Linked DNA regions of Homo sapiens. The protein of the gene in region 2 interacts with the protein of the main gene of each other region in a pairwise test. Each region holds a gene or a part of one and is shown on either strand. Other genes may lie near its edges.

Region 1 (16,304 bases), about 95 Mb from region 2:
TTCCCACCCAGCCTCCTTAGGGAACCACAGTTTCTGGTTTATCCTTCCTGTATTTATTTTTTTACAAAAATATGAAGATACGTATACATTTTATTTCTACCTTTTTCTTCTATAAAAGGTAACATGGTATATATACTCTTACACTTTTTAATTTTTTTTATTAACAACATATCTTGGAAATCTAGACCTTCCTCATTCATTTTTGTTTTGTTTTGAGATTGCCAAAAGCAAGGGCTGATGTCCCTCATCTACACCAGAGTCCTCTTGTTGAATACCGGACATTAATCATCTTAGTTTCTGTGTAGGATGAACTTAACATTTTTCACAGTTAAAAAAAAATGGTACAAAACAAAAATTTTAAACAACTTTAAATAAGCTTAACCGTCCCTTAATAATAGTATATGAGATTGTTCATCTTGGCAATTTCTGATTGTGATGACTTTCCTGCTTTAGTTACTTCACTATTGATGTAGTTTAGTTTAGAGGTTGTATTAGGGGTCTCTAAAGGGTCAGAACTGATAGGATAGATGAATATATGAAGGGGAGTTTATTAGGAGAATGACTCACATGATCACAAGGTAAAATCCCACAATAGGCTGGGGAGCAAGGAAGCCAGCCTGAGTCCCAAAATCTCAAAAGTAGGGAAGCCACCAGTGTAGGCTTCAGTCCGTGGCTGAAGGCCTAAGAGCTCCTGGTGAACCACTGGTGTAGGTCCAAGAGTCCAAAAGCTGAAGAACTTGGAGTCTGATGTTTGAGGGCAGGAAGCATCCAGCATGAGAGAAAGGTGGAGGCGGAAGACTCAGCCAGTCTGCTCTTTACATGCCTGCCTTTATGCTGGCAGCTGATTAGATGCTGCCCACCCAGACTGAGGGTGGGTCTGCCTCTCCCAGCCCGCTGACTCAAATGTTAATCTCCTTTGGCAACACCCTCACAGACACATCCAGGAACAATAATTTTCATCCTTCAATCCAGTCAGATTGACAAAGTATTAACCATCACAGAGGTTAAGAGCACAGACAGGCAGGCAGCCTGGGTTGGAGTCCTGACTTGGCCACTTACTAGCTATGTCACCTTGGGCTTGGTTTCCTCATTGTAAATAAGGGTAGATGTGAGGTTTTGGTGAATTTGTACGTGTAAGGCATTGAACGTTGTCTGTCACATGGTACGTACTATGGAAAAGGTTATTATGCTTGTATTAAAAAATACAGGAGTATGAATTTATTACTTCAGTGTCTATAGATTCTATAAAGTCAAGATCTAAAAGATTAGCTATTTGTTTTGGTCGTCTCACAAATCTATCATCTGCAGATTTATTTAGCAAGTCTGAAAAATTCATACTTTCATTGCTTGTCTACTCAGTCTTCGAGGGATCATGTAAGAATTAAATTTAGGAAAAACAATTAGCAAGATAAGAGATGAATGGATTCTCCACACGCTGAATAATAGATACCAGATGGCTTTTGAGAAAAAGACCCCAGTTTTTGAGATCTGCTGTCAAGTATTCGATGTCCCGGCCAATAGTTCAAGGAGTACCTGTGTTTTGAAATAGCCTTATGAGTGACATCCTACATTCCATTTATTGAAGTGCTGAATAACAAATATTATTGTTTCTGGCCAGGCATGGTGGCTCACGCCTGTAATCCCAGCACTTTGAGAGGCCAAGGCAGGCAGATCACTTGAGGTCAGGAGTTCGAGACCAGCCTGGCCAACATAGTGAAACCCTGTCTCTACTAAAAATACAAAAATTAGCCAGGCATGGTGGTGTGCACCTGTAATCTCAGCTACTCAGGAGGCTGAGGCATGAGAATCGCTTGAACCCAGGAGGCAGAGGTTGCAATGAGCCAAGATCGCATCACTGCACTCCAGCCTGGGCAACACAGTGAGACTCCATCCAAAAAAAAAATAAAAATAAAAATACCGTTCTTGAAAAATTGAATAAATGCATTATTTCATGATATGTCTTAACAAGCCTGAAGTCTGTGTGATGTAACACTTTAGAATGAGAGGCCACTTTCTGTTCTTTAAGGAGATGTACAGGTGGAAATATTCTTGGCTTTAACTCTAATTTTGTTTTCCAAGATGCACATTATTTTTGCATCTGTGCAATTGATGTCTCTCTAAATTGAAACTTTATCACCTCTCCACAGGGATGCCTCTGCACTGCTGGATCCGATGGAGTGCACAGACACAGCAGAGGAGCAGAGAGTACACAGTCCTCCTGCTTCATTAGTGCCGAGAATTCATGTGATCTTAGCCCAGAAGTTGCAACACATCAACCCATTATTGCCTGCCTGCCTTAACAAAGAGGAGAGCAAAACCTGTAAGTGTAAGTGTTACAGCCTAGTCAACTATCGACTGTTAGCCTCAGTGTGTCCAGAGCTGCCTGTAACGTGCTCATAGTGGAATTGAGAGTCAGGTCTTCATTCCTCACAATAAGTGTTTTCAGTAATCTCTCTCTCGTTGCCCCATTTTTCTCTTACATTAATTCTCTTCACTGAAATGAGGACAAAAGAGTATACAAGGCTGGGTGCAGTGGCTCACGCCTGTAATCTTAGCACTTTAGGAGGCCAAGGTGGGTGGATCACCTGAGGTCAGGAGTTCGAGACTAGCCTGGCCAATATAGTGAAACCCTGGCTCTACTAAAAATACAAAATTAGCCAGGTGTGGTGGCGTGTGCCTGTAATCCCAGCTACTCGGGAGGCTGAGGCAGGAGAACTGGAGGCAGAGGTTGCGGTGAGCTGAGATGGCACCATTGCACTCCAGGCTAGGCAAAAAGAGCAAAACTTGGTCTCAAAAAAAAAAAAAAGGAGGATGCAAACTGCCTTATTTTTAAGATTAGCATCACTTACTGACGGATATGTTAAGCTTTACCTACTGTCGACTGAATTGTGCTTTGCTCACGTAGTTATTTTTTTACCTAAGACACTTGAGAGGAACTGGAGTGTGTGTCCTGACTCAGGTCTTCCTTTCTCCTTCAGTTGTTTCAAGTTTCATGTCCGAATTGTCTCCAGTCAGAGCAGAACTTCTTGGGTTCCTTACTCATGCCCTTCTGGGGGATAGTTTGGCTGCTGAATACCTTATATTACATCTCATCTCCACAGTGTAAGTGCTGTATCCTGGTGGGAATTAGGGGAGTTTGGTGTGTGTGGAAGTGGAAGAGCGGGAAGATTGCTGGTGTCATTTGTGTGTTTTCCTTATTGGGCTTCATCACATGGTTTTTATCTGTCCAGTGTTAACTGTTATACCAAATCACAGACAAATTCCTTTTCTCACAGTTCACATTTAGCATTTTGATTATGTCCCCTTAAATTTTAGAGCCAAAATCAGATAAAGCAGTGGTCCCCAACCTTTTAGGCACCAAGGACCCATTTCATGGAAGACCATTTTTCCATGGACCGGAGTGGGGATGGTTTCAGTATGAAACCGTTCCACCTCAGAACATCAGGCATTAGTTAGATTCTCATAGGGAACACACAGATGTGCAGTTCACAATAGGGTTCGCGCTCCTGTGAGAGTCTGATGCCACTGCTGATCTGACAGGAGGCGGAACTCAGGCGGTAATGCCCACTCATCCACCCCTCACCTCCTATGTTGTGGCCCGGTTCCTAACAGGCCATGAACCAGTACTGGTCCACGGCCTGGGCGTTGGGGACCCCTGAGATAAAGGACCTGGCTGATGAGTAAAATGAGCTGTTTTATCCCTTTTGCATTCTGAACGCTCTGTTTATACATCCCAAGGCGCCCACGTCATGTGCACGTTTAACGTGGACATTGACACTAGCACCGCATCCCTTGACTCCACTGTATTTCTTTGTTTCTCATTTTAAAACTAGTGTGGGCCTTTGACAAGTTCCAAGAACATAAGGAGGAAAATGCACATCATCTGTAATTTCACCACTTAGAACCTCCGTTAACCTTTAGGTACATGTTCATTGGTTTTTGTTTACATATGTATACATCCTTGCATAGGTCTTAGTTACACTCTAAGCACAGATGCGTGTCTTGTTTTCAGCAGTTGATATATATTAAACATTTTCCCATCATAATGCTTCATGAACTTTGTAGTGGCTGCAAAGTATTTCACTATGCAGTTGTACCATACTGTAACCATTTCCCTAAATGTTAGCTTTTCCTAGCTTTTCTCTATTATAAAGTTGCAGGAAACATCTTTGTGCTGTAAATCTTATCTTTTCTCAAATCAGTCTGTGACAGTAGTACATAATGGTTGAGAGCACAGGCTCTGGAACCAAACTACCCGGATTCATATCCCAGCTCTGTCAGCTTCCATTTAGATGAACATGTTGCTTATTATCATCTCTGTGCCTCGGATTTCTCATCTGTGAAGCAAAGACAACAGCACCTACCGCTGAATGGTTAGGGGTTAAATGAGGAAGCATTTACATACTCAGAACGGTCTTTGGCACGTGACCAGCAGCACTTACGTACAAATATTGGCTATTACTTTTATTGCTGTTATTCTGATAAAATAACTGGTCAGAATATTCTGGTTTATTTTTAATGACAATATTAAGCTAATTTTTCTATTCTTCGCTATTTGATAGAAATCAGGAAGTCACTTCAGCATCTTATTGATTGATTTCTTTCTTTTCTAGATATACAAGAAGAGATGTCCTTCCACTAGGAAAATTTACAGTTAACTTGAGTGGTTGCCCACGGAATAGTACCTTCACAGAACACTTGTATCGAATTATTCAACATCTTGTTCCAGCAGTAAGATGAATATAAATATGTATTATAAACCTAAGCACACTTAAAAAATCCATCTAACTGTCTTTCATTCACTTCAAATATTTAACTTAGAGATTTTAATAGATCTTATTTAAGGGGAAACAAAGCCTGCCAAATTACATAATTTAAAATGTACGTTCCCCTAAACATTTCACTTTTTTTTGTCTTTTTGCCTAAGCACAAATTTCTGTAAGTCTAACAAAACAATTGTAGTAACTCCCTTAAAATTACACTCTCTTGATACCAATTTGTCCAATTTGGTATCCTTTTTGTACACTAAAGTCTTAAATCTAAATAAACTCTAAATTGTAGGAGCATAATTCTTTTAGTTGAGGTAATAAAGTTCTTTATCTCCATTGCCTCAATTTTAATTCCTGTTTGGAAAGTTGAGCTCACTTTATTTGCCAGGGTATCTGGAATGCAGTATTTGCGTGGTGGTAGGATCTTGGGAACAGGGGAATTGCTTCTGATTAGTTGTGTGACTGAAAATACTGATCACTTCTTTGGAAATTGAAGAGGGTGCACTAGATCTTTATTGAACCGAATGTATTCAGTGTCTCAGTGCTAACACTCGTCCAGGCCCTCAAGAAGCAGAAGTGGACTGGAATATACCAGCAGTTCTCAGTCTCCTTAGACTCACTTTACACTCTGAAAAATGTGTTCATACTCAAAGAGCTGTTTTTCACGTTATGATTATATTTATCATTAATTTACCAAACTAGAAGATAAAGTAAATACACCTATTAAAAATAAAAAATTACATATAAATATTTTTATAAAAACAACTTTTCCCAAGCCAAAAATGATTAGTGATAAAGGTGACATTGTTTTACATTCTTGCAAATCTCTTCAATGTCTGGATTAATAGGAGACAATGGATGCTTGTATCTGCTTCTGCCTTCAGTCTATTGTAGTCTCAGGTTTTGGTTGAAGTATATGAAGGAAAGCTGGCCTCACACAGATGGAAAAGTAGATGGTAAAGGAAGGATGGTTTCGATAGCCTTTGCAGATAACTGGGTGGTGGTCTTTGATACTAGACCAAAACTGTCCACATGAGATTTTCTTAAAGATAGTTAAGTGTGGAATCTGAAATCCTATTCGTAAACTTTCCATAGTCTGCTATGGTAAAATTCATTAGTCTCGCACATTGAAAGGATCTTTTATCCATGCATGATTTTGACCTGATTGACCCTGTAAAAGGGTTTAAGCAATTCCCTGGGGGTTCTCGGGACCACATTTTGAGAATTATTGAAACAGATCCTTTGCCCTCACAGAGTTTAGGTAGAAGACCAACAAATAAATTAATACATGGTAGGTCATTTAAGCACCCCTAAGCTCCCCGTTTTCTTAGAATCACTGAGGTAATACACAAAACTCCTCTAAATTTTCGCAATATATCTTACCTCTTCCTTGACAGCCTTCCCCCACCATACCCTCTTCTCCATCCCTGCCACATTGTTTGAGGCTGGAGGGATGGAAGAATGGATTGGTGTATAAGGCAGAGCACAGAGGGTGTTGGGAATGGTGGCTCAAGAGCTGGAGGAGGAGCATAGATGGTTCGCTTACTCGTTAAACACTGAGTGAGAAGGTGCTCGCGTCCTGGAGGCACCTCCTGAGAGCTGCAGGTCCATCCACAGCTCAGTGTGCTCTGCTCCTTGATTTTTCTCTGAAAAGTTTGTTCAAAAATGTCTATGATAAATGAATACAATTTTAACTCAAAGAATATAGAGGAAAATTAAGCTTTTCTCTCCCTGTCTTGAAGAGTAAAATTAACATTTTCTTTTTGCTAGCTAGCTTGTGTTAGGTGAAAGAGGTTAGGTTTTGGGGTATTTAATATTTATATGTCAGTTATCTACCATTTGTTTCATTGGTTAAATTAAAATTGATTTTCAAGAATATTGAACAAGACATTTGAGAATAAAGTAGCTCATAAAATGGATGAAATTCAAATGTAAGATCTAGATACTATTTTTGCTTCTGGAGTTCAAGAAACCATATCACTACTCCCTTAGAAATTTATAAGATCACTTTTTCCATATGAAACACAATGTTTAATTCCAAGTACATATTTTCTTAAAACAGGGAAACTTAAATTCTTGTTCACTAAAAAATTTCTCTTTGCAGTCTTTTCGTCTGCAGATGACTATAGAGAACATGAACCATTTGAAATTCATTCCCCACAAAGACTACACAGCCAATCGCTTGGTCAGTGGGCTCCTCCAGCTGCCCAGCAATACTTCCCTTGTAATCGATGAGACTCTCCTGGAACAGGGGCAGCTGGATACCCCAGGTACGTACATAGATGTTTCTCTTCCATTTCTGACTTCCTTCGCACTAAAGCCAGATCTAGGAATAACTTTTAGAAGAGTATCTATGGACAAATTCACATTTAACAACGTAAGATAAAGGCTTGGCATATGAATTTGATTAAAGCATATGTTATAAACTAATTATATACACCAACTATGTTTTGCCATAGTATTCTGAAAGTAGTACAATGGAACAGATATATATCTTATATAATATATCTTATATAATATATATCATATATAATATATAATGTCTCATTTAATATATATCATATATTATATATTTTATATATTATATAATGGAGCAATAATATAAAGGGTAGTATTAGTATAATGGAGCAGTAATATAAAGGGTAGTATTAGATGTTGAGGGTCGTAAGGGTTCTTTGGTGAAAAGTTTTATTGTGTCAGCGAATGGTTGGAGCAGTCTTTATGGGCCTACAGTGTTGGGTTCTTTTGCGTAGTTGTATATAACCTAAAATTTTTTTTTCAGTGAGTGTAAGGAATGGTAGAGACAGGGTCTCGCTATGTTGCCCAGCTGATCTTGAATTCCTGGGCTCAAGTGATCCTCCTGCCTTGGCCTCCCACAGTGCTGGGATTACAGGTGTGAGCCACTGCACCTGCCCCAAATAGCTTTTTAAAAAGCTGAAATGGGAGGAAGCTTTGCCTTTAGTCATCTAATACCTCAAAAGGGAAGTGTAGAAAAGATCTAATATAATTTTTTTTTTGTTTTGAGACGGAGTCTTGCTCTGTCGCCCAGGCTGGAGTGCAGTGGCCAATCTTGGCTCACTGCAACCTCCAACTCCCGGGTTCACACCATTCTCCTGCCTCAGCCTCCCGAGTAGCTGGGACTACAGGCACCCGCCATCACGCCTGGCTAATTATGTTTTAACCTCCCGTTGTAAAGTTTGTAAATGGTTTTCAGAGAATGTCTGAGAAATAATAGATCAAATGGTTTGCACTAACCTCAGTTGCGGAATATATTATAAAATCACAAGAAAGCAGATTGTTTACCAGTGCTCAAATGAAGACAATTAAGAATACACTGCTGGCGATCAGCTCAAGAGGTAAAGGTAGAAGAAAAAATGAGGTAGACTGGGCATGTTTAAGGCAAAGGGGAATATAAAATCTGTAAAATTCACTAGGCTGATCTATGTATGACGGTAGTTTTAGTGTTTCCTTGGTTTAGCCCTGTAAATACACCACTTAGAAATAATCATACTTGGGAACTATTTTATGTCTAGGTGCATACCAGATGCTAGGTATTAGATTTGCGGGGGTATCGCCTGCCCCCAGAAAGTTCTACCTTGACCAAGACTGTTGTAAGCCTACACACTTAGTGACGTTTAGCTTAGTAAACTGGACAGCGCCTCATACCCTTTATTAAAAGTGGTAGAAACTTCATGGCTCATCATCGGTGTCAGCAAAACTGATGTGTTTAGATGATTAAAGTCAAATGACTGAAAGTGTTTTCCTGCCTTTGTAGGTGTTCATAATGTGACAGCCCTGAGCAACCTCATAACGTGGCAGAAGGTGGATTATGACTTCAGCTACCATCAGATGGAATTCCCCTGCAATATTAACGTTTTCATTACTTCGGAGGGGAGGTCACTCCTCCCGGTATGATGAGTCATTTTTAAATGGAGGGAGGTTGACATTGGAAAAATACCTACATTTTTGCTGTTTCTTGGTACCGCTTATTAATAAGTTACATTTGTTGTAAAAAAAAAAAAAAAAAAAAAAAAAAAAAAAAAAAAACTGTGACTGCTGATCATTAAGGGAATTGAGTATTTTGCACTGCCATGGATGAAAACCTTACATCTACCAAGCTCAGGTATCAGCAAGTCATGAGACCAGCAAGGCTGTTGGCAGCAGAAACACCCACATCTGAGCATAGCGAGATTGCCTGATTTTAACATCCAGACTTCTGTTCTTGCTACCTTTGACCCATTGTTTTCTGCTAATCTTATGTGAAAAATATTTCAGAGTTCTTTTAAAATGTCCTTGGTCACTTGGTAGTTATTTTCATGCTTTGTGGTGAAATGCTCTGGTATGTCTTCAGAGTGGCTGGTAAAGAGAGCTTTTAATTCTGTGGATGATGGGAAATGCTCCCAGTTGTCAAATGGTGTGTAGTCTCTGAATAATAGTATTCACCTGCGATTGATGAGAAACCGCCTTTGACTAAGAATGAAATGGCTCAAGGATATGTTTTCTGTGTGCAAGTATTGATAGACCTTTTTAATTAGCTGCTTTTTAGAGGTTGGCTACATTTTTGTGTGCTTACTGATACCATTGAGGAAACATAAGTAACCAAGAAAAAGCTTTCATAATTATTTCTGAGGTAGTTATAAAGCATGTAAATTAATATTAAAAATAGATGCTCACTGGCTGCGGTGGCTCACGCCTGTAATCCTAGCACTTTGGGAGGCCAAGGCAGGTGGATTGCGTGAGCCCAGAACTTTGAGGCCAGCCTGGACAACATGACGAAACTTGTCTCTACAAAAAATCCAAAATTAGTCAGGCATGGTGGCGTGCACCTGTGGTCCCACTACTGAGGAGGCTGAGGTGGGAGGATCACTTGAGCCTGGGAAGCAGGTTGCAGTGAGCTGCAATCACACCACTGCACTCCAGCCTGGGTGACAGGACAAAACCCTGTCTCACACACAGAAAAAAAAACATTATTCCCTCCCCCTAAATAATAAGTGGTATTTTCTAATTCCCATAGGGGCTGACAGAGATGATGCATCTTTCTTTAAAAATGTAGATTAATTTAGGAACTCAGAAAATACAGTGTACTCCTTCTCTTTTCAGGCAGACTGCCAGATTCACTTACAGCCCCAGCTAATTCCACCAAACATGGAGGAGTACATGAACAGCCTTCTCTCAGCGGTGCTGCCTTCCGTGCTGAACAAATTCCGCATTTATCTAACTCTTTTGAGATTCTTGGAATATAGCATATCTGATGAAATAACCAAGGTATGTCTAGGTTAAAATAAAGGATTTCCCTGTGTTGAATTGCAGTATGCAACCAATTTACATTTACCATAATTACTGATAAGGTAATTTTGTTATTTGTTTTCTGTCATGTCTTTTTTTATTCCTCTGTTACTCCATTATTGTCTTTTTGTTTGAAATAGGTATTTTCCAGTGTCCCATTTTAATCCCTTGAAGTTTCTTAAAGTTATTTTCTTAGTAGTTGTCTTTGGGGGATAAACTTAACATGTTAGTATAATCATCTATTAGGGATTAATGCCAGTTTGTTTAGTTATTTTTAATTTAAAAAAAATTTGTGTGGCTAATGCCATTTTAATTATATTATACAAAGACTTTGCCCCTTTATAATTCCGTTCCTTCTCCTCTCCCTTGTGCTCCTGTCATACAATTACCTCTCAGTACATTGTATGTCCATCAACACATTTAGAATTACTGCTTTTGCAGTTGTCTTTTAGAGAAAAAAGTTAGAAATGGAAAAGACTTCTGTACTATTTTTTCTATTTGCCTATGCAATCACTTTTACCAGCACCCTTTATTTCCTCATGTGGGTTCATGTTACTGTCTAGTATCTTTTCATTTCAGCCTGAAGAACTGTCTTTAGTGTTTCTTGCATGGCAGGTCTACTTGTGCAAATTCTTTTTTTTTTTTTTTTTTTTTTTTGAGACAGGGTCTCGCTGTGTCATCCAGGCTAGAGTGCAGTGTTGTGATCATGGCTCACTGCAGCCTCAACCCCCCCAGGTTCAAGCGATCCTCCCACTTCAGCCTCCTGAGTAGTTGGGACCACAGGCATGTGCCACTGTGCCCAGCTAATTCTTTGTTTTTTGGGTTTTTTTGTTTTGTTTGGGTGTGTGTGTGTGTTTGTGTGTGTGCAGATAGGGGATCTCTTTATGTTGCCCAGGCTAGTCTCGAACTCCTGGGTTCAAGTGATCCTCTCTCCTTAGCCTCCCGAAATTCTGGAATTAGAGGTGTGAGCTACCTCGCCCAGCCCTCTTTTAAGTTTTTGTTTATCTGGGAATGTCTTAATTTCTCCTTAAGGCTAGTTTTGCTGGATGTAGAATTCTTGGTTTATAGTCTTTGTCTCATCATTTCGAATATGTCCTCCCACCACTTTCTGGCCTCTGGTTTCTACTGAGAAGCCAACTAGTTTCTGATAAGGATCCTTTGTACACACTGAGTCATTTTTCTGTCACTGCTTTCAAGATTTTGTGGCTTTTGACAGTTTCGATTATGATGTGTCTATGTGTGGATCTCTGAGTTTATCCTACATGGAGTTTGTTGAGCTTCTTGGAGGTGCAGAATAATTCATATTTTGGGGAAGTTTTCAACAAGTTTGGGAAGGTTTTGGCCATGTTTCTTTCTGCCTCATTTCTCTCTGCTCTCCTTCTGACACTACCACTGTGTATCTGATGTTGCATTTAATGGTATCCCACAGGTCTTCAAGGCTCTGTTCATTTTCCCTCATTCTTCTTTTTTTGTTCTGTTTCTTAGACTAATCTCAGTGAACTTATCTTCAAATTTAGTGATTTTCTTCTGCCTGATCAAATCTGAGCACCTCTAGAGAATTTTTACTATATTTTTCAACTCCAGAATTTTTATTTCCTTCTTCTAAAAAATTATTTCTCTCTTTTTATTGATACTCTCTATTTGGTGATTCTCATATTTTCCTGAAGTTCTTTTTATGTGGTTTCCTTTATTTCTTTGAATGTTTAAAATAGCCAATTTAGAGTCTTTTTGTCTAATGTTTGAGTTTCCTCTGGGACAGTTTTCTACTGACTCCCTTATCCCCAAAGTGTGAGCCATACCTTCTGGTTTCTTTGTACTTTTTTGTTGAAAACCAGACATTTTATTTGGTCAGTGGGGTCTCACTGTATCACCCAGGCTGGAATAGTAAGTAGCACAGCCACAGCTCACTGCAGCCTTAAACTGCTGGGCTCAAGTGATCCTCTTGCCTCAGTAGCTGGGACCATAGGTGTGCACCACCATGCCCAACTAAAGTTTTGTTTTTTTGTTTTTTCTTTTCTTTTTTTTTCTTTCTTTTTTTTTTTGTAGTGATGAGGTCTTGCTTTATTGCCTAGGCTGGTCAACTCCTGGCTTCAAGTAGTCCTCCCACCTTGGCCTCCCAATGTGTTGGGATTACAGGTGTAAGCCACCACATCTAGCCACAACCAGACATTTTAAATTATATAATATGGCAACTCTGCTTTGGAAGTTACTCTGGAAATTAAACCTCCCTAGGGTTTATTGTTGTTGCTGTTTGTTACTGTTGGTAGGTTGTTTAGTAACTTTTTTGACTAATTCTATAAAGTCTGTATCTTTGTCACATGTGGGCACTGAAGTCTCTGCTCTGTTAGTTTTGTGGTTAATGATTGGAAAGAAATTTCCTTAAATGCTGGGTAGTAGTCTCCCAGTCTACGGGTGAATAATAATCATAAATAAAAATAAAAGTTGGGGCAAGCCCTCAGTTCAACACTTAGCCATGCAATTTACAAGCCTTAGCCTTCATTTCCTGCTCGCACAGAGCCTCCAGGTCATGCAGAGGTGGGAGCTATGGTCTCTGAGCATGTCTGCAGCCTTCTGAGTTCCTAGGAGTTACATACTTAAGGTTTTCAGAGCCCTCTACAGACATGTCATTTCCCAGCTAGCTTTTCCATTGAAGGGTTTGGGTTAGTCTGTCTGCCGCAGCTGTTACCCAGTGTCTCAGGTAGCTAAGGTGATTGGTAATTTCTTCCGATTGTTTTTGATAAATGCCCTGGGGAAAGAGGTGGTTCATAGTAGACAGGCTTCCAGTCAGGTTAAATAAAGACAACCTTGCAAATGGGTCCTTCCAGGGAGCCACCAGACAGGTGGTCAGATGACAGTTCTCCGGGAATGGCACTTGGAAGGAGCCCTAGCCCTGTTCTCTCTCCGGTGGCTGCCAGGCTGTTGATTTTTGAAGCTACTAATTATCGCCTGGAGGGGAAGGGGTTGGAATTTAGGAGTAGGACATGTTAAAATGCTGCCAGGCTCAACATTCTTACCAATAATCACCTGGTTTTCTTGCATAAATGCTCTCTGGATTGCTGCAAGTATGGTTTTATTTCTAGTTTTTAAAAAGCTGATTTTGATCAGTGTTAACAGTAGAGACAGTTTTCTGCGGTCCCTTCTCTGCCATTTTCACTAACATCACTCTTCCTTTGTGGAAAAGCATTGTTTCCTATGCCAGTTGCTGATTTATATGTTTGCTTGACCTTAAATGAATCTGAGTTTCATTATTTTATTTTCATCAGCAGCATTATGTATGTATATGCTTTGGTACTTTCACCCATATTGCCTCCTTTGTCTAAGAGGCTGACATGCACCTTACTACATCAGTCAAGGAACCATGTTAATTTTCTTTTCCTTACAAAAATGCACATCATTTACATTTACTCTTTTGATAAAGGCAGTTGAAGATGACTTTGTGGAAATGCGGAAGAACGACCCTCAGAGCATCACTGCTGATGATCTTCACCAGCTGCTCGTGGTGGCTCGGTAAGTGGCGCACGTCCATTATTGCTGTTTCGGTAAGCTTGTGTATATGTCTTCTGAGTTATTCAGCAGTAACTGAGGCAGAATTCTAAAAACGGAAATGAACTTTTCCTTTTAAAAACGCTGTATGAAAGGGCTCATTGAGGGGGAATCGAGTTTGGCTGGTGATCTCTTCAGTGGAACAGGCATGCTGCTTGTTCTCTAAGCTTCAAAGAGTGAGCCACTTTCCAATTCTGACTCTTCAACGATTTCTTTTTAGAAGCCTAACTTGGCTGTTGACTTGTGTGTAACTACCATACGGTCTTGTCTCCTAACGTGCTCTGTGTTTTCACAAAGTATTCCTAGGTCTTAAAAAAAATTTAAAACTTACTATCCCAGCTCTAGACTTAAATTTGTTTCTGTGTTTCAAACCAGGTGTCTGTCTCTCAGTGCTGGTCAGACAACGCTGTCAAGAGAACGATGGCTGAGAGCAAAGCAGCTAGAGTCTTTAAGAAGAACGAGGCTTCAGCAGCAAAAATGTGTGAATGGAAATGAACTTTAAAGATGTAATACCTATGAAGAGTAATGGGCAAACTGTAGCCACATAATTGTAAAATTCAGATATTCATTTATACCACATTGTTTTATAGGTAATTTCTATCACAAACCAGTGACATTTCCTGAAATCAAGCCTGGTAACACCTGATGTTTATATGATATTCAGTAAGGACTTTTACCTTACTGATTTCATGGAGCTTTTGAAGTTTGTTTTATAATAATTATATAAATTAGTAATGATGTAAAAAAAGTATTTGATATTAAAAGTTTAATATTGATAATGTTGCTGATTGTACCATTTCCTTAGCTTCAGCTGAGTCATAGGCCAGACTGTTGAAATGCTGAAATGAAGAAGGTTGTTGCAGTTTCAAAGTCAGAGGAATCGTGCTTCGGATTTCTTATGTTTTCTAGTTCTCTGTTTTTCCAGTTCACAGTGGGTTGGGGTGCATTCAGTAGTCCATCTTTGGGGAACGGAGGCGTACTTGCCATTGATTCACATGACTACATGAAATTCTGTACTGTCATTTCCCAGATGTTTGGCCACAGAAACTTTTTCCCACTTAACATTTGTTAACAGCCTGCAAAACTAAACTTGTACATGGCAGTGGTTCCCAGACTTTTGTATTTTATGGACCGGTAGTAATATTTCCAAAAATCTGGGGTACTATAAGGTTGCCAATTTACCTTGCCAAGTAATCCGAATAAATCACTGTATTATCACCATTTTTTTCATAAAAGGAAAGGACAATCTATCTCTGAATAAGAGGAGTCCTTTAAACGGAATGAATGTGGCTTTTGGGGGCAAAAGAAACCAAGACACTACATTGTCTTTATTTTCTCCTATCCCAGTGCATTTGAGAACCATGCATAAGGGAATGCTGTGCTACAAAGCTGTGCCCAAATATGAAAACAAAATAGGAAACTTAAAAAGCAATACCCCCTTTAGAAAGTTTTTATTTTCTTAAATGTCATTGAGTTGCTTTGATTCTATTGGATTTTTGGCATTTTTTATGGGATCATCAGTTGGTTCCAAGTATGTTAGATCAGCTAACATCTGCTACTCCAGTAACAGCCTCGTACAACTGCAGGTAGGTTTTCTCCAGACCAATTAGTTTTAATAGAGCAAACTAACAACAGACTGTAGTAGCATGGTTATGGCAACCAGAATCTTCAGAAAGGTTAGGACATTACTTTTTAAGCTGTCAGTGGTATCAAATAACTTACCTAGTTGGAGGCAGATAAAGGATCCCTTACGTTTTTTCCTATAAGGCCTAAATTGAAATTGTTAACCAAGGAAACAGGGTCAGCCTTGAAAAATCAAGGAATTCATTGTACCTAATAACTGAAGTAAAAATAACTAGTTGTTCAACTTTTCCTAAACTCAAATCTATTTTTATAAACAAATGTAAATAATGTTTATATTAGAGTTGAACTGGTTTTCATTTTTATAACTGGTAGACTAGACCTTCCTTAAACTTTTAGAAATAAAATGAAGGCTTCACTGGATTTGTGAGGATAAAATACATTTTCTTTAATTGTCCTAGAGCAAAGTACATTAGTCACCATGTGTTTTTTGTGCCAATGTAAATTGTAATTTACCAAAGAAAAATACATACATTGCTTGGTCTTGCAGAAAAGTTCCCTTGAAAGAACCTTTCCAATAAATAAAACGTCCCAAATTAGCAGTACCTTGGGCTGTTTTTCATGAGTAAGAAGATTCACCATCCCATGTGATCTGTGTGGAAAAAGACCATGTCCTCTTGGTGGAAGACATGAGAGAGCTGAACTGAAGTGGAGGAGGTGGTGCAAGAGGGACCTTCCTGCTCAAGGCCCGCCCAGGCAGCGGAATGGAGTGCAGTGCTTGGCTGCAGAAACCCTTTGTCCCTCACCTATATATACACGGACAGTCAAGTTTGTTGCTCTAACGTAAGGCACAGCGTTAATCCTGTATGGCCAGGAAACTGAGTAGACTCCTGTGTAACCCTGTTTGGAACTTTGCCTTCTTAAAATGATTTTTCAAAGATCTCTTTCGAACTAATTTCTGTAGAGTTTAAACGTGTATTTTATCACCTAATGTTGGGTTGTATTTTCTCCCATGTTGGGAACCCTTAATATTTTCAGGACCCGGAAGAAAAGTTGGTAGAAGCAAGCATTCAGTTTTGAATGTTTGGATTTAAAGTATAGTTTCTGATCCATTTCCCTTTTTAC
Region 2 (16,221 bases):
TATATATTTTTACGAAGAGAAAATATCTATGCACAATTTGAAAACAGTGTTATATATAAAATATTTAGTCCTTTTAGTGTATCTTTAAGAATATATAAAACCTCTTACTTGGAGAAAACATTAAAAGCATAAATTTAAACATTTCATAATACTGCAATATTTTTAAAACACTTATAAAACACCTTCCAGAAAGGTTTGCATAGACAAAAAAAAAAAGTTTGGGAAACGTTGCATTACATTGCATTTTGCAACAGTCTTCCTGAATATTGGCAGTGCATATTGGCGTACTAAAGACTCCTAGAAGACCTACAACATAGAAGTTGGCTTAACTTTGCTTACTTAATTGTTTCTCAAACCTAATGAATCAAAACGCCATTTTCTTCAAATATAAAGTGGATCAAACTCACAATTAGGGAAGTGTTGCTCTATGTAGATCAGTGTCCAATTTCTTTTACTTTCTCCATCTCTCCCACTCTCAAGCCACATCTCTCAACCTCTTTCCCAAGCTCCTCTCACCTTAACTCTAAGATGCAACCCATAACCTGGCAATCACTGGATCATGTCTTGGGATATTGCCAGTGGCTGTTATACATCAGCTCTGATCTGAAGAGAATCCATGTACAGCTAAGAGAATAAACAGCTCCATTCCCATTCTAGCTGATCGTCTCCCCAGGACACCAGGCAAAGTTGCTGCTGACTAAGGAGGCCCCCCTTTTTTTGTTTTTGTTTTTGAAGTGGACATCTTTCCTTTAGAAACTCAGCACTGGCTGAGGCACCAATTAATTTTGCATAAGCTGCTACAGGACCCTCAGATGCTAATCAGTTTGTTCATAACCACAGAGTATTGTTTTAGGGTCATGTACGTAACTTCTGCCTCCAGCCCTGTGGATTTATTTACTGCTTAGTCCCTAGTTCCTGCAGCTGTGTCCTTTCAATGACTGCTTTATGGTGGCCAAGAGAGTTGAGGTCGACTGCCAGGACTCAGAGATCTGGAGGAACACATGGACACATTATTCTTTTGCTCTGAAGCTATCCAATTCCTGTTCCGGTCAGAAGGGGAGATAGTGGGAGGATATCTCTGAAACTGCCCAGCGCTTACTGCTGATATTCCTCAGGTCTGACATTATTGCAAGAGAACAAACTTAGATCTACCCTCTGTGTGTTCTTCAGTGGAAGGTGAATTACTAACGAAAGTGTAATAATACAAAACACAATTGAGTGTAGCCTTGGCTTTATTTGTAAGACCTACTCTGGAGATATTATTTTCTTTACTCCAAGACTACACATTGGATCCAGTCTGCTTCAAACAAGAGACCGGGAAAGACGGGTTACTATGCTAATTGAATACTAATGAGGCCTTTGCTTAAGTTGGGTTTTGTTGCAATTATTTGCCACTACATTTCTTTTGTATTTATGTAGAGGGAAAAATAAACTACTTCAAAGTTAGCAAGAGTCTTACTTAGCCTGAGCACTTGCAGAAAAAATGTCTTGCTACTCTTTCTTTTGTACTTGTAACATTTGTAAAGAGTTTTGTTCGGCACTATGGAAAAGCAAAATATCATCATCATTATTACTGGCCTTTGTCCACAGTGGATTTCATCCAGATTCTAACCAGTGACTCTGTGACTAACAATCTGAGTCACTAAGTTTCAGATGTTTATGGATTTCAACACAATTCCCAGACTGAAAGGTTTTTTTTTTTAATTTACTTTCATGTTTCAAGACTCAGAAAGAATTAACTGCCTTTCTGTATTTCCAGTCTAGTGCAGAAAGAATTAAATGCCTTTCTGTATTTCCAATCTAGTGTCACTGAGTGACGGGCTAGGAACAATTCAGTGGATAGACTGAACTGTTCCTTCAATTACAGATTTGTATTGACAAAAGTCAATTACCAAAATGTCAAAAAAAAATTAGTATATACTTCCAGGACAAAAGCCTCCAGGCTGGCAGAGAATTCAGTGAATTATAAATATTTGTGTTTTCACCATGGTAGTGGCACAGGATGATTACAGAATTTAAAATGCAGAGAATCACGGTGATGGGAAAACTGAATATCCACATGTGGAAGAATGAAACTAGACCCCTCTTTCTCACCATATACAAAAATCAACTCAAGGCCGGATGCAGTGGCTCATGCCTGTAATCCCAGAACTTTGGCAGGCCGAGGCAGGCAGATCACTTGAGGTCAGGAGTTTGAGACCAGCCTGGCCAATGTGGTGAAACCCCATCTCTACTAAAAGCACAAAAATTAGCCGGGCGTGGTGGTGGGCGCCTGTAATCCCAGCTACTTGGGAGGCTGAGGCAGGACAATCACCTGAATCTGAGATGCGGAGGTTGCAGTGAGCCGAGATAAAACCACTGCACTCCAGCCTGGGCAACAGAGCAAGACTCCGTCTCAAAACAAACAAACAAACAAACAAACAAACAAACATCAACTCAAAATAAAGACTGCCATGTAAAACCTGAGATGATGAAACTGCTAGAAAAAAAACATAGTGGAAACACTTCATGACATTGGTCCAGGCAAGGATTTTTTGGATAAGACCTCAACAAAAAGAATGAAATCCTGTCATTTGCAACAACATGGATGAACCTGGAGGACATTATGTTAAGCAAGAAAAGCCAGAAACAAAAGGCAAATACGACATGATCTCACTTATATGTGGAATTTTAAAAAGTTGATCACATAGAAGTAGAGACTAGAATACTGGTTAGCAGAGTCAGGTGAAAGGTGGGGAGGAGTGGCAGGAGTAGGAGAAGTTGGTTAGTAGGTACTAGGTTATAGTTAGATGAGAGGAATAAGTTCTGGTACACTAACGCAGTAGTCTCAACCTTTTTGGCACCAAAGACCTGTTTTGTGCAAGACAATTTTTCCACGGATTTTGAGGGGGGATGGTTTCAGGATGAAACTGTTCCATCTCAGATCATCCGGCATTAGTTAGGTTCACAGAAGGAGCATGCAACCTAGATCCCTCCCATGTGCGGTTCACCATAGGGTTTGTGCTCCTGTGAGAATCGAATGCGGCTGCTGATCTGACAGGGGCAGAGCTCAGGTGGGAATGCTCGCTGACACTCACCTCCTACAGTGCAGCTCAGTTCCTAACAGGCCACAGGCTGGTACCAGTTTGCAGCCCGGTAGTTGGGGACACCTGCTGTATGGCACAGCAGAATGATATATTTAACAATAATGTGTTGTATATTTCAAATCAGCTAGAAGAGACAATTTTGAATGTTCTCACCACAAAGAAAAGAAAAATGCTTGAGATGATGAGTATGCTAATTACCCTGAGTTGATCATTATGCAATGTATACATGTAGTGGAATATCACACTGTACCCCATAGATAATATGTATAACTATTATGTGTCAGTTAAAAATAAAACTAAAAAAAAAAGTAAGTAAACACAATATAAACACCAAAAAAAAAAAATAAATAAAATGCAGAGAAACTACTGCTAAAATGTAATAAAGAGAATGATAGAAAAATACAAGTATATTGACTGGTTATTAACTTTGCAAAGATGCACATCTTTATTCTTATAGCTCTTTCAAAGGTATATTAGAAAATGGACAGTCTGACCAGGGCCTACTTGAGGGTGGAGGGCGGGAGGAGGGTAAGGATCAAAAAACTATGTATCAGGTGCTATGGTTATTACCTGGGTGATGAAATAATCTGTACACCTAACCCCTGCGACATGCAATTTTCCCAAACAAACCTGCGTGTGTACCCCCAAACCTCAAATAAAAGTTGGAAAGGAAAAAAAAAGAAAAGGAAATGGACAGTCTGAGCTAAAATATCCCTTTTTATGAAAAATCTCATTATTTTAATAATTTTATCATTTTTCTGTATTCATTCTCATACCAGCTCTAGACTATCCCTGGACTATAACTATCCCTGATTGGTCACCTTACGTCAATCTTTTATTATTATTATTATTATTTGTTTGTAGGGACAGGGTCTTGCTCTGTCACCCAGGCTGGAGTGCAGTGGTGCAATTATGACTCAATGCAGCCTCAAACTTCTGGCCTCAAGCAATCTTTCCAGCTCAGCCTCCCCAGTAGCTAGGTCTACAGGTGCCACGCTACCACACCTGGCTAAGTTTTTAATTTTTTATAGTGATGTGGTCTTACAATGTTACCCAGGTTTGGTCTTGAATTCCTGGCCTCAAGTGAGCCTCCTGCTTTGGCCTCCCGAAGTGCTGGTATTACAGGTGTGAGCCATGGTGCCTAGCCCCATCAACCTTAAAAGACAATTCCTTGTCATTTTCACATGGAATAATTTTACAAACATTTGGTCATACATTTTTACAGCATGTCAGGTTAATAATATCTTACAGTTTTATAGCATTTTGCAAAGAATTCTCTTGCATGTTATCTCACATTCATCTCATCATCATATGCAGTAGAGAATAAATGGGTGGCTCCATTTTATGGATGAGAAAATTGATGTATATTACACTGATATAATTGGCTTAGACTCATTGGCTAAAGTAACATGGATTGTTACAGAAAAATAGAGGTCCTAGTCCAAAGCTATTCCACTAGACATGTGATATGGTTTGGCTCTGTGTCCCCACCCAAATCTCATGTTGAATTGTAATTCCCAGTGTTGGGGGAGGGATCTGGTGGGAGGTGATTGGCTCATGGGGGTGGATTTCTCCCATATTGTTCTCGTTATAGTGAGTGAGTTCTCACAAGATCTGATGGTTTAAAAGTATGTGGCACTACACCCTTGCTCTCTCTCTCTCCTGCTCTGCCATGGTAAGACGTGCTTGCTTCCCCTTTGCCTTCTGCCATGATTGTAAATTTCCTGAGGCCTCCCAGCCTTGCTTTCTGTACAGCCTGCAGAACTGTGAGTCAATTAAACCTCTTTTCTTCATAAATTATCCAGGTCTAAGGTAGTTCTTTATACCAATATGAGAACAGACTAATACAACATGTAACAGAAATTTGAGGTTTAAAAAGAATTTTTGCCTCTAAATCCTCATAATGCAAGATTAAGAATAAAGCCTTGGACAGATGAGCTGTTATTTCTGGATACCGGTCTTTGCAAATACTATTTGGGTTATCAAGTATTATTTTGTATTATGTTAATGCTCTCCAAAGTATCGAAGTGTAATCAGACCGCACAAAGTATTATCAAAATATACAAAGATAATAAAATGAATTAGATTTTTAAAAACTATTTACTCATCATTCTGTGCCCTTTATAGGATGACCTATATAAGTCTATGTAGGATGTTCTTGAGCACACATTCATAAGATTCCTGTTGTCTTTCAAGCAAGTTACATTTTTCACTGTGAACTTGTTGGATTTTACGTTTAAACTAATAGCCTTTCTAAGGGAAGAAGATTTATCTACCATTTCCCTTACATCTTCCGCAGTGTCTAGGCTGGAACCAAAGTTGATGCTTTTTGACTTCTGTATGGCAACTACTCCTGTGACATATTTTGAAGTTCCTGGTACCCCCCAATCTGGCCCTGCACCCACACTGAGCCTCATGGCTAAGTTTTGATATCCAAGCAGTAAGATGGTCTAGTGGAATCCCCTAAAGCATGGGTCATGAGCCACCCACATCACACCCATCTGGTGTCTCTCAGCAGGTACAGGATTCTAGGTGCTTCCACAGATCTTCCCCACCCAGTGAAGCTGCATTAACCAGCTCCCCAGGAGAGTCTTGTGAACTCTAAAGTTTGATCATCATCCTAATGATAGCACTTTTCTGCTCCTGGAAATTTTAATGATGTTGCTTGTGAATATGGTTCCTGGGCCTGGTCTTTGAAAATGAAAATAAAAGATGGTGCTTGACTTTGGGGAAAAGAAGTGAGATGCAGACTACAAAAATGGCTCAAAACAACGCCCTCTCACAATTACTAGGAGAAAATGTTTACCCGTGTGCTGAGAAACAACACCCCCCATTTCTGTAAGGCAGTTGCCAAGCAGATGCCTGATTTCAGGGATCTCTGGAGCTGCACCCTCCAAGGCGCTGGCGCTTAGAAACGACATGAAGAGCCAGCCCTGCTGAGCAGGACCAGGGCGCCAAGTCTGAATGACTAATATTTTTCCAACCTAGAACGTCATTAACCGATTGATAACTATTTCCCCTTTAAACTAGGCAAAATCAGCATTCCTCTCCCCTCTGTGTGCCAGAATTCGAAGATGAACAAAAGACGCCTGCATCAGGAAAACTGTGTTAAGTTCTCTTGGATTCAGGGCTTCGACCCGAATTGGGCTGAGTGAATGAAGACGCTGGTGAGATGTCAGGGACCTGGGGAATGAAGACACACCCAGAAAAAGCAGGAACCTACAGGAGTGGACAAAGAACCGGAGCATAGGCATGTGAGAGGGGTTGAAATGAACAACAGACTCATACAAGAAGGATTTCTAATCAGAAAAGAGCGATTGCTTTAGTAAAGCTGCAACCTGGAACAATTACAATCTGACCAGATGTTCTTGCAAAACTGGTAAAGCAGAGAATGTGTAAAAATCTCTCCCCCTCCTCCCCTGAATGCAGTTGACGAAAGGCCGAAAGGCTGGATCCTCAAAGCCCAGATCTGATCACTGCAGATCCGGGCCACCCTAAAAGCAATCGGGTGTAATCTTTCCAGCTCCAGGCCCTGGGATGAGGGAGGTGGGGGAAGGTGGAGAAAGGTGGAGGAAGATGGAGGGAGGTGAGGGGAGGTGGAGGGAGGTGAGGGGAGGTGGAGGGAGATGAGCGGAGGTGGAGAGAGGTGGGTGGCGGCTCCAAGGTTTGAAAACACATCCAGGACACTTCCCATCCTCCAAGAGCACGCTGGCTCACAGGCTCTTTCACGCTTCTGCTTGGGACAATCGCGTGCATGAAATCTGGCAGGGAGGAGTCAAGGAGATTGTTAGCCCGAGGGCTGGGACGGTGGATCTGGGAATCAGGGGCCTGGGGGACACGTTCTCTTCCTGCCGCGGGCTTCCTGCTCCAGAGTCCCCGCGGGGCTTGGCGGCGGGGCCGGGGGCTGCACGCGACCATCCGGCAGGGGGCGGCGGCGACAGCGGCGGCCGCAAGGGACGCGTCCGGGGCCCGCGCTCAGGGGGAGCGGTAGCGGCTTGGCAGCTGCTCCCCGCGCCCCCGCGGCCTAGCCAGGGGAGGGGGCGCAGCGCCGGGGCCATGGATCCGCGTCAGGCCGCTGCTTCCCGCCGGCGGGCCCGGGGCGGGGCGGACCCGTCCCCGTCCCCGTCCCCGTCCCCGTCCCCGTCCCCATCCCCACGTCCCATCCCCCACGCAGCCTTCGCCCTCCCTGCTCCTTCCCGCGCCGTCTTCCCTTCCCGCGTTCCCCGGGAGAAACATGGCCGGGAGCAGCGAGGAGGCGCCAGACTACGGGCGAGGCGTCGTGGTAAATGCAAACTCCCTATTTTGGGGCTCGGCCCGCTCCCCTCCCTCCCTGGCACCCTGCTTGTAGATTAAATGCTTGCCGTGCGTCGGGGGAGAGAGAGGGCCACCGCTTTGTTCTCCCTCCCGGCGGGGATCGCTTCCATCCTCGGACCCGGGCCTCCTCTCCCCGCCCCCAATCTGACGAAACTCTGAGTCCCGTCCCTTCACCCCGAGTTCCCAGCGTCCCCCCGTGTCCTCCGGCCGGTAGCTCGCTCCTGCAGCGTCCCGCCGGCGCCCAGCCGTCCCCATCCCCGCGAGCCACGGGGAGTCGCTTCTGCGAGCCCGGCAGGGCCCCAGAGACCCCCGCGTGCTGCTCTGGAGGCCTCCTTCTTCCTGGGTCTCCTCTTGACTCCTCCAGGGCGGGCTTCAAGTTTTGTTTTTAAAAAGCACACTGAGGGGTTTTGAAGGCAGCTAGGAAATAAAGTAGCTCAAGTGGACAGAGCTTGAGATTTGAAGCCTTTGGTACCCAGGTTGGGGGCTCTCTGGCAGTGGAGGCCTCTGCAGGAGCTCTAGGACACGCTGGCGGCTCCTGAGTGACCTATGGCTTGTCTGTAAAAGGGAGCAACAGCAAGCTGGGCTCTGGAGCCAATTGGGAGGATGCATGTAAAATATCTAGCAGTGTGTCCGGATGGGAGGGTGTGGGGTGCTGGTTTCCCAGAACTGAGCCTCATTAACCCTGAGAATCCTGACGGTGTCAGCCAGAGGGTACCCATCTCTCAGTGTGCTAGGATCCAACCCGTTCTTGACCTTGTGGCCACGTCCTCCCTGCTCCCTGAGAAGTGGTTTTCCTAGAAGGTGGTGGTTATAACTTGTGTCAGGTTCAGTGTGAAACTCAATGGTGGTGAGGATGGTGGGTGGGGCTAACTTGCCATCTCTTTCCAGGGATCAGCTTGTCATTCACAGATAATCTGTTTATGAATATGAATGGCCTGAACTAAAGTAAGTGGGCTGGGGAGGGAAACGTGTCACATTCAGACAGAAGGGTCAGGTTGAAATGTGGGGCTCAGTGCTTAATTTAACAGCAGGACCTTTCCTTCTGAAAGGATGAGGAGTTGATTTATTCATTCCACACGTTTATTGTCCTGCTGGGTTGTAGGAGGTGCTGTAGGCTCTGGGGTGCAAAAGACAAAGGCCTTGTCTTCATGAGCTTGCGTTCTAGAGAAGACATAGGCAAGCAGTGTGTAAACAAATAGAGAAAATTTCAAATAGAGATATGTGCAATAGGAGGAGGGTAACAGGATAGAGGGTAATTGGAGGAGAAGGGGGGAGTGATGCTTTTGCTCAGGTGGTCAGGGCAGCCTCTCTGCGGTGACCTTTGAGCCAAGATCTGAAGGGTACACAGGAGTAGCCATGTGGACTGCAGGCAGAGACCCGCATACCAAATGCAAAAGAATCATTGTATCCGATTTATGCTTTTACAAAAACCATTCCAGTTGCCCCAGGAGGAGGGGCAAGCCTAGCGGTGTGATGGATGGGAGGGGGACTAAAACGCAAAAAGGGCAATCATTAAGTTCATTCTGGACAAATTGAGTTTGTAGTGCCTGTAAGGCCCACAGGTTGGCCTGCACTGTAGGCAATTTGAAATTCACATTTGGAATTCTGGAGAGTGATTGGAGAGATTTGGAAGTCATCAGCAAAAAGAATAATATGTAATGTTCGGGAGTGCTCAGTGAATATGGAAAAAACAATTAAAGCAACTGTTAAGGATGGAAGCCTGGAAAGTCCCAAATATAAGAGGCTGCCTGTGGGGGAGAAGCTGGTTGAAGGAACCGAGAAAGAACTTTGAAGGGTGGGAGGGCAGGCAGCATGGTGGGTGCCTTGGGAATAGAGCATTGTTGAGCAGGAGGGGCGGGGTCAAGAGGTCATCAGAAGTGTCAGATGTTACAGGGACAGCAAGTCGGATACCAAGATGGAAAACAGCCACTGTATTTAACAATTACAAAGCCATTAGTAGGGAGAATCTTTTAAACAACCACTGCATTGGTAGAATGGTTAAAATATAGTACAAGTTGAGCATCCCTAATCCAAAAATCCAAAATCCGAAATGCTCCAAAATCTGAAACTTTCTGAGCACCAACATGATGCTGAAAGGAGATGCTTACTGGAGCATTTTGGATTTCGGATTTTCAGATTAGGGATGCTCAACCAGGAAGTATAATGCAAATATTCCAAAATCCAAAGGAAAAAAAATCTGAAATTGGAAACGCATCTGATCCCAAGCATTTTGGATAAGGGGTACTCAACTTGTACTACCGTAACATACTACATACTTTTAGAAAAGAATAAGGTGAATCTAGATGCACGGATAGAGTAGGTAAATTGTTGAAGTCTAAAAAACAAGTGAGAGAACACTGTAAATAGCCCAGTCTATTGGTGTCAACAGAGGTCCTCTTGGAAGCAAGGTAATTTTTTGAAAGATGCAAAGAGGTAGTGAGAGGGGTATCAAGAGAGTAGAGGGCCAGGTGAGGTGGCTCATACCTGTAATCCCACCACTTTGGGAGGCCGAGGTGGGTGGATCTCCTGAGGTCAGGAGTTCAATAGAATCCTGACCAACATCGTAAAACCTTGCTGCTACTAAAAATACAAAATTAGCTTGGCATGGTAGTGCATGCCTGTAATCACAGCTACTTGGGAGGCAGAAGCAGGAGAATTGCTTGAATCCGGAAGGTGGAGGTTGCAGCAATCCAAGATTGCACCATTGCACTCCAGGCAACAAGAGTGAAACTCCTTCTTAAAAAAAAAAAAAAAAATAAATAAATAAATAAATAAATAAACAAAAAAAATGAGTATAAACTGGACCAGCTGCCAAGGGGCTTGGTGCTTGCATGAGAGCCCACAAAGGTGGGAAATAATCCACATATAATGGAGATAGTCCCTACATTTACATCCTTTTCTCCAGTAGAACTTGGAATAATTAGATTAACCTCAAGTTGGATATAAGCAGGCAACTTCAGAGCGAATCGAAGCTGCTGGTAGAAGGCAGCTCATGGCATGTAAGGCAGGAGGGAAGGGAGAGCTGGAGAGGATGAGTTTACTGGGAGAATAGAAAGCTCTCAAGGATGGGATACAAAAAATCAAATTAGTACCAGTTTTAAAAAGGGGCAGGTGGCTGGGAGTGGTGGCTCACACCTGTAATCCCAGCACTTTGGGAGGCTGAGAGAGCAAATCACTTGAGCCCAGGAGTTCGAGACCAGCCTGGGCAGCCAACCCTCTCTCTACAAAAAATACAAAACTTAGCCAGGCATGGTGGTGCATGCCTGTAGTCCCAGCTACCGGGGAGGCTGAGGTGGGAGAAGCACCTGAGCCCAGGAAGTCAAGGCTGCAGTGAGCCATGATCGTGCCACTGCATTCCAGCCTGGGTGTCAGAGTGAGACCCCATCTGAAAAAAGGGGCAGAGGGCAGGTAATAATAGCAAGCATTTCTTGAGCACAAATCTGTAAGGGAGGTCTAGTGTGCTCCCCATTTTACAGAAGAGGAAACTGAGGCACTGAGAGATTAAGTAAATCACCCAGGTCGCATAAGTAGCAAATGGCAGAAGCGGGATTTGAACCAGCTTTCAATCACTATACTACATAGCAAGCTGTGATTCCAGGATGGAATTTCAGGGTTGGGGCCATCTGTAGGACTGGTCTGGCTATGTGAATGTATTGCTAAATGGGGAATAAAGATGTGATTTGAGTTAAGAATGTAGTTTGAGCTAAGGCTGGTGAAGGAGCTACAAGATGAAGTCGTTGGAAAGATCGTTGAGGTAGGCATTGGAGTAAATCAGCCAAGGAATTGTCCAGGAATGAGGTAGAGAAGAAAATTCCGAGTTGGTAGAAATCTGTTGATAAAGATGGCAAGGGATGTAGAGTCAGATGATATAAATATAAAACGAGAAGTAAAGTTTGTGCAAGAGAAGGGAATATTAAGAGATTTAAGATGGCTCTTGCCTATAAATTGGCTTTTGGTTGAACTGGGGAGGTAGGACATTTATACCATTAACAATAAATGGTAGCAAATGCTAATTGCCACATAAGAGAGGTAGATCCTAAGGTCAGAAATTTTGCTCAGAGTTGGCTTGTCACTTGATCTGGAGCTAATACAGTCACCAGATTCCTGGTTGATACCTCTTTGTTACTTCTCAGGGAGAGATAAAGATCTTCTCTATCCACCTGGCTTTTGGGGATCGGGTTATTAGACATGTTTTTGTTTGTTTGTTTTTGTCTGGTTTGGTTTTGCCAAATGATTATCAACTGAGCTATTATTAGTACTTACCTAAGTGAGTTTGGTAGGAATCAGGAGAAGAGAGAAATCAGAAATGATTGTTGTGTTTCTGTTATGGCTGGCTTCCTGTCACCCCCCATGAAAATACGGCAGTATCAGAGATAAGTAATCAGGTAATATCAGAGATAAGTAATCCATCGAAAGCACAGCTCTACTAGGTGGTAATGAGTTTTCCTTCTGTGGGGCAAACCCACCACAGAAGAGGAAGGCATGTGGATAGGAGGTGGTTGGCCTGTCGAGCTTCCTTCATTCCTCTGTGAGCAGAACCTGGGAATCTTTTAGCAAACCACTTGTCCCCACTTTTCAAGATGTATGGTTGTGAGGTGGGGCCCTTCCCAGGGTACCTCCTTCCCTGGCTCTAGGGCTAGGACAGGAATCCCAGAATTCCTGTCTGGGATTCTTTGAATTAGAGTGAAGGGATGAGACCCCCTTTCTCTTGCTGGTGGAGGACAGATGAGAGCTATGGCCTGAAGGAGAGAACAGGGCCAATCTGTGGAGCTCAGCAGGGGAGAGGAGCAGAGATTAGCTTCTTGTATGTGTTTTCTCCCTTAGGGAGAAAAATGATGCAAAAAATAGTCTAAGCACAAAAAAAATTATTTTTAATGACTTACAAAGTTTTCAGTGCATCTTCAGTGCGAAAAAGAGAATCAGAATTACTTCTGGGATTTGGATGTTGCATAAAATGACTCACTTAATGGGTTTGTCACTTCCCCCAGCTTGGCTATGTTTTGCTGTTTTGAACAGAGAAAGCATTGTACTGAATACACTTAGAGCATATTATCTGTGATACTGAAACTATCTACAGACTCTGGTTTTGATTTTTTAAAAAGCAAGTGAATAACAGTTATCTACAGTTCATAGCAACCTCCATTCCTGCAGGTTTTGATTTATTTACAACACGATTTGCATGCACCATTGAAGTTAGCAAAGCATAAACCAGTATTTCCATCGTCTTGAATCGACTTTCATCTCAACAATGAAAACTCACTATTTAAGATTAATTGAAAATAATGGCCAATTTGGATTATAGAACAGTTTTAGAGAAATATATTTCTTCTACTTTTATACTTTTTGTTTTGTTTTCTTGAGACAATCTCACTTTGCTACCCAGGCTGGAGGGCAGTGATGCGATCATGGCTTACTACAGCCTTGACCTCCTAGACTCAAGCCATCCTCCTGCCTCAGCTTCCCAAGTAGCTGAAACTACAGGCACACGCCATCACACCAGAACAATTTTTTTTTTTATTTTTTGTAGAGATGGGTTCTCATTATATTACCCAGGCTGGTCTCACACTCTTGGGCTCAAGTGATCCTCCCACTTCAGCCTCCCAAAGTGTTGGGATTACAGGCATGAGCCAATGTGCCAGGCCTCAAATGTATAGTTTTAACTAAGATAATAACACTGGCATATAGGTTTGAGGCACTTCTTTAGATGAATTAAAACATATAATTTGTTGTTAAATGATTGATGTTTCAGTTCATCTAAATGATTAGCATTTATTGCATAAGTACTGTAGACCAGAAACTGATATGAGTCTTACATTCATTATCTTATTTAATGCTCACCATAGCCATATGAGGCAGGCACTAACTCCATTTCATAGATGAATACACTAAGAGAATTTAATATGCCCAAGGTCTCATGGCTGGCAGGCTTGTCCCAGGTGTGTGAGATTTCCATGTCCATGCTCTTAACACACTACTCTGTGTGGCCTCTGGGCTATGGATCCATATTACAGTTTATAGGTTTGTTTCATTTGTGATTTTCTTATCATTTTTTTCCTATTTTTGGCATTCATTTTTGGCACTTTTAGTCTGTTTCCTTTTTTTGGCATTATGCGTCAAACATCATGTATTATACACCATGCAGTGTTCCAGGTATTCTAAGTACATTATCCTTATAATAACCCTATCCATAGGTTTTACTGTGTCTTATTTAAAGCAAGGGGAAACTGGATCTCAGAGACAGTAAGTCATCTCCCTAACATCACAGTAGTAAGTGTCAGAGCCAAACTCTTGAACATGGAGTGGAGAGTATGCTCCAAGATTCAACCAGAACGGGGGCAGTAAAGGATTGATGTGGTTGGAGGAATGGATTCAGAAGACCACTAGTTAATGGTGCCACTGGTGGAGGAGCTCCAGAAAGTGGGGTAGATAGTACATGTGGTCTGGAAGGTGATCCAGAAAGTGCTGTACACCTGGATGATCCCCCTGGGGCCTGGGGCCAGTCAGGGTTCTCCTGGTCTGGTCTTTACTGTGGCCTGCCAGAGGCTCTCCTAGAATCTCCTCATGTACAGCTGGTAGTCTAGACTCTGGCCAGCTGCTGTAGTGTTAGAGGTTATAGCAGGTACAAGGAGTTCTCAGGGTGGCAGCCAGAGGAGCTTGGTGCAAATCCAGCAGTCCCACCGGCCAGTTTGATGGTAGAGGGAGAGCAAACGAGACACTTTTCAAATCAAATATGCAGATTGACCAGGCATGATGGCTCACACTTATAATCCCAGTGTTTTGGGAGGCCAAGGTGGGAGGATCCCTTCAGGCCAGGAGTTTGAGACCAGCCTGGGCAACATAGCCAGACCTCGTCTCTACAAAAGAAATTAAGAAAATAAGCTGAGCGTGGTTGTCCACTCCTTATCTCCAGCTACTTGGGAGGCTGAGGTGGGAGGATCGCTTGAGCCTAAAAGTTCGAGGCTGCAGTGAGCTATGATTGTGGTACTCCACTCAAGCCTAGGCAACAGAGGGAGATTCTGTCTCTTAAAAAATAACATAGATGATATACACCATGTGGCCATCAGTCAGCCAATGGATATGACACATTGGAATCTCCAGAACCTTGAACAGTGGTGCTCTTTATCACAAGGAGACAAACTGAGAATTCAGGTTGGAGTTCAGGTTTTCAGGTAGCCGGAAGATGGAGACTGTGTCATCCATTCATTCATTTAACATTTTTGAGCACTATACCATATTCCAGATCAGCATTCTGGGCACTGAGGGATTCAACAATGAATCAGAAAAAGTCTCCGCCAGAAGGAGCTCATGTTCTGACAGAACACACCCATGCACACACACATCATCCAGTGGTAAAACAGGCTATGAAGGTCAGGGAAGGCGTCTTTGCAGAGGTGACATTGAATGGAGACTTGAAAGAAGTAGAGGACAGCCATGTGGAAATCTGGAGGAAGAGTGTTGCAGGCAAGAGGAGGCGCCAGTGCAAAGCTCAGGAGGCAGGGGTGTGATTGGCAGATCGGAGGACTTGAAAGAGAGCAGCTGCTGAAGCAGAGGGAAGAGGAAGAGTGCCAGGAATGAGTCAGACAAGGTAATCCCTGGTGAGCCACAGTGAGGACTCTGGTCTTTACTTGGAGTAAAGTGATAAGCCCTTGAAAAAAATCTAAGCAGAAGGCTGCCATGATAGGATGTCCTTTGTTTTTTATTTTTATTTTTCGAGAGACAAGGTCTTGCTCTGTCACCCAGGCCGAAGTGCAGTGGCACAGTCATAGCTCACTGCAGCCTCGAACTCCCGGGCTCAAGTGATCCTCCTACCTTGGCCTACTGAGTAGCTCGGACTACAGGCAGACACCACCTTGCCTGGCTAATTTTTTAATTTTTTGCAGAAACAGGATCTTGCTGTGTTGCTCAGGCTGATCTCTAACTCCTCGCCTCAAGAGGTCTTCCCGCCTCAGCCTCTCAAGTGCTGGGATTACAGGCATGAGCCACTGTACCTGGCTGTGATGTGCATTTTTAAAGGAGCATGCCCGCTTCCATGTGGAGGGGCTGCAAAGTGGAAGCAGGGAGGCAAGTGTAGTGGCTCCTGGGACAGTCCTGGGAGAAATCATGGTGGCAATGGACTGGCCTGGGGGTGGGGGAATAGCAGTGGAGGTGCCGAGAGGTAGTCCTGGATAAATTTCGAGGGAGTTGAAGATAGTTTTCTGCTGTGTTGCCTGAGGGCGATGAAAGAAAGGAGTCAGTGACAATTCCAAGGGACAGGAGCCTTCTCAAGGATCCTGCATGGGAGCCTTGGGTAAGACAGAGAGCTACAAGGGGCACCAGGAATTTGGGAAAGAAGATCAGAGGCCGGGGGCAGTCAGCAAGGCCTCCAGGAAGAAGTGGGGTGTGACCTGGGCTTCTGAGTTCGGAATACAGAGGTAGAGGAGGAAAGGGGGAGAGAGGATGAAGGGGTGCACGGCAAATGAATGAATGAAACCCAGAGCTGGGAAGGATCCTGACTTGACTGCAAACCATTCTGAAGGCAGGAAGCAAAGGTGTAGGGAGTTGTGCTGGAAAATTAGGGTGGGTCTGCATTGTGAAAGGCCTCAGAAGCTCAAAGCTGGACAGAGGAGTCAAAGTGTGCAGGAGTGAGTAAAGAATGGGAAACTGAGGCCAGTTGTGCTGGCTAATGCGTGTAATCCCAGCACTTTGGGAGGCTAAGGCAGGCGGATGGCTTGAGTCCATGAGCTCAAGACCAGCCTGGGCAACGTGGCAAAACCCCATCTCTACAAAAAACACATAAAAATTAGCTGGGCATGGTGGCACACACCTGTGGTCCCAGCTACTC

The links.
Region 1: the proteins of PRTFDC1 (region 2) and MCMBP interact in binary tests that used the Homo sapiens proteins (3 or more experiments, as listed by UniProt).

What each region holds. Positions count from the first base shown.
Region 1 is NC_000010.11:119,829,270-119,845,573, reverse strand, and holds the end of MCMBP (mini-chromosome maintenance complex-binding protein), read left to right. Parts: intron 1-2,147; coding exon 2,148-2,320; coding exon of another isoform or gene 2,321-2,326; intron 2,327-2,978; coding exon 2,979-3,102; intron 3,103-4,613; coding exon 4,614-4,731; intron 4,732-6,873; coding exon 6,874-7,039; intron 7,040-8,544; coding exon 8,545-8,678; intron 8,679-9,869; coding exon 9,870-10,034; intron 10,035-13,473; coding exon 13,474-13,562; intron 13,563-13,973; coding exon 13,974-14,100; 3' UTR 14,101-16,134; downstream 16,135-16,304. UniProt on the Homo sapiens protein: Associated component of the MCM complex that acts as a regulator of DNA replication.
Region 2 is NC_000010.11:24,943,675-24,959,895, reverse strand, and holds the start of PRTFDC1 (phosphoribosyltransferase domain-containing protein 1), read left to right. Parts: upstream 1-7,289; 5' UTR 7,290-7,320; coding exon 7,321-7,368; intron 7,369-7,447; exon of another isoform or gene 7,448-7,532; intron 7,533-16,221. UniProt on the Homo sapiens protein: Has low, barely detectable phosphoribosyltransferase activity (in vitro). Binds GMP, IMP and alpha-D-5-phosphoribosyl 1-pyrophosphate (PRPP). Is not expected to contribute to purine metabolism or GMP salvage.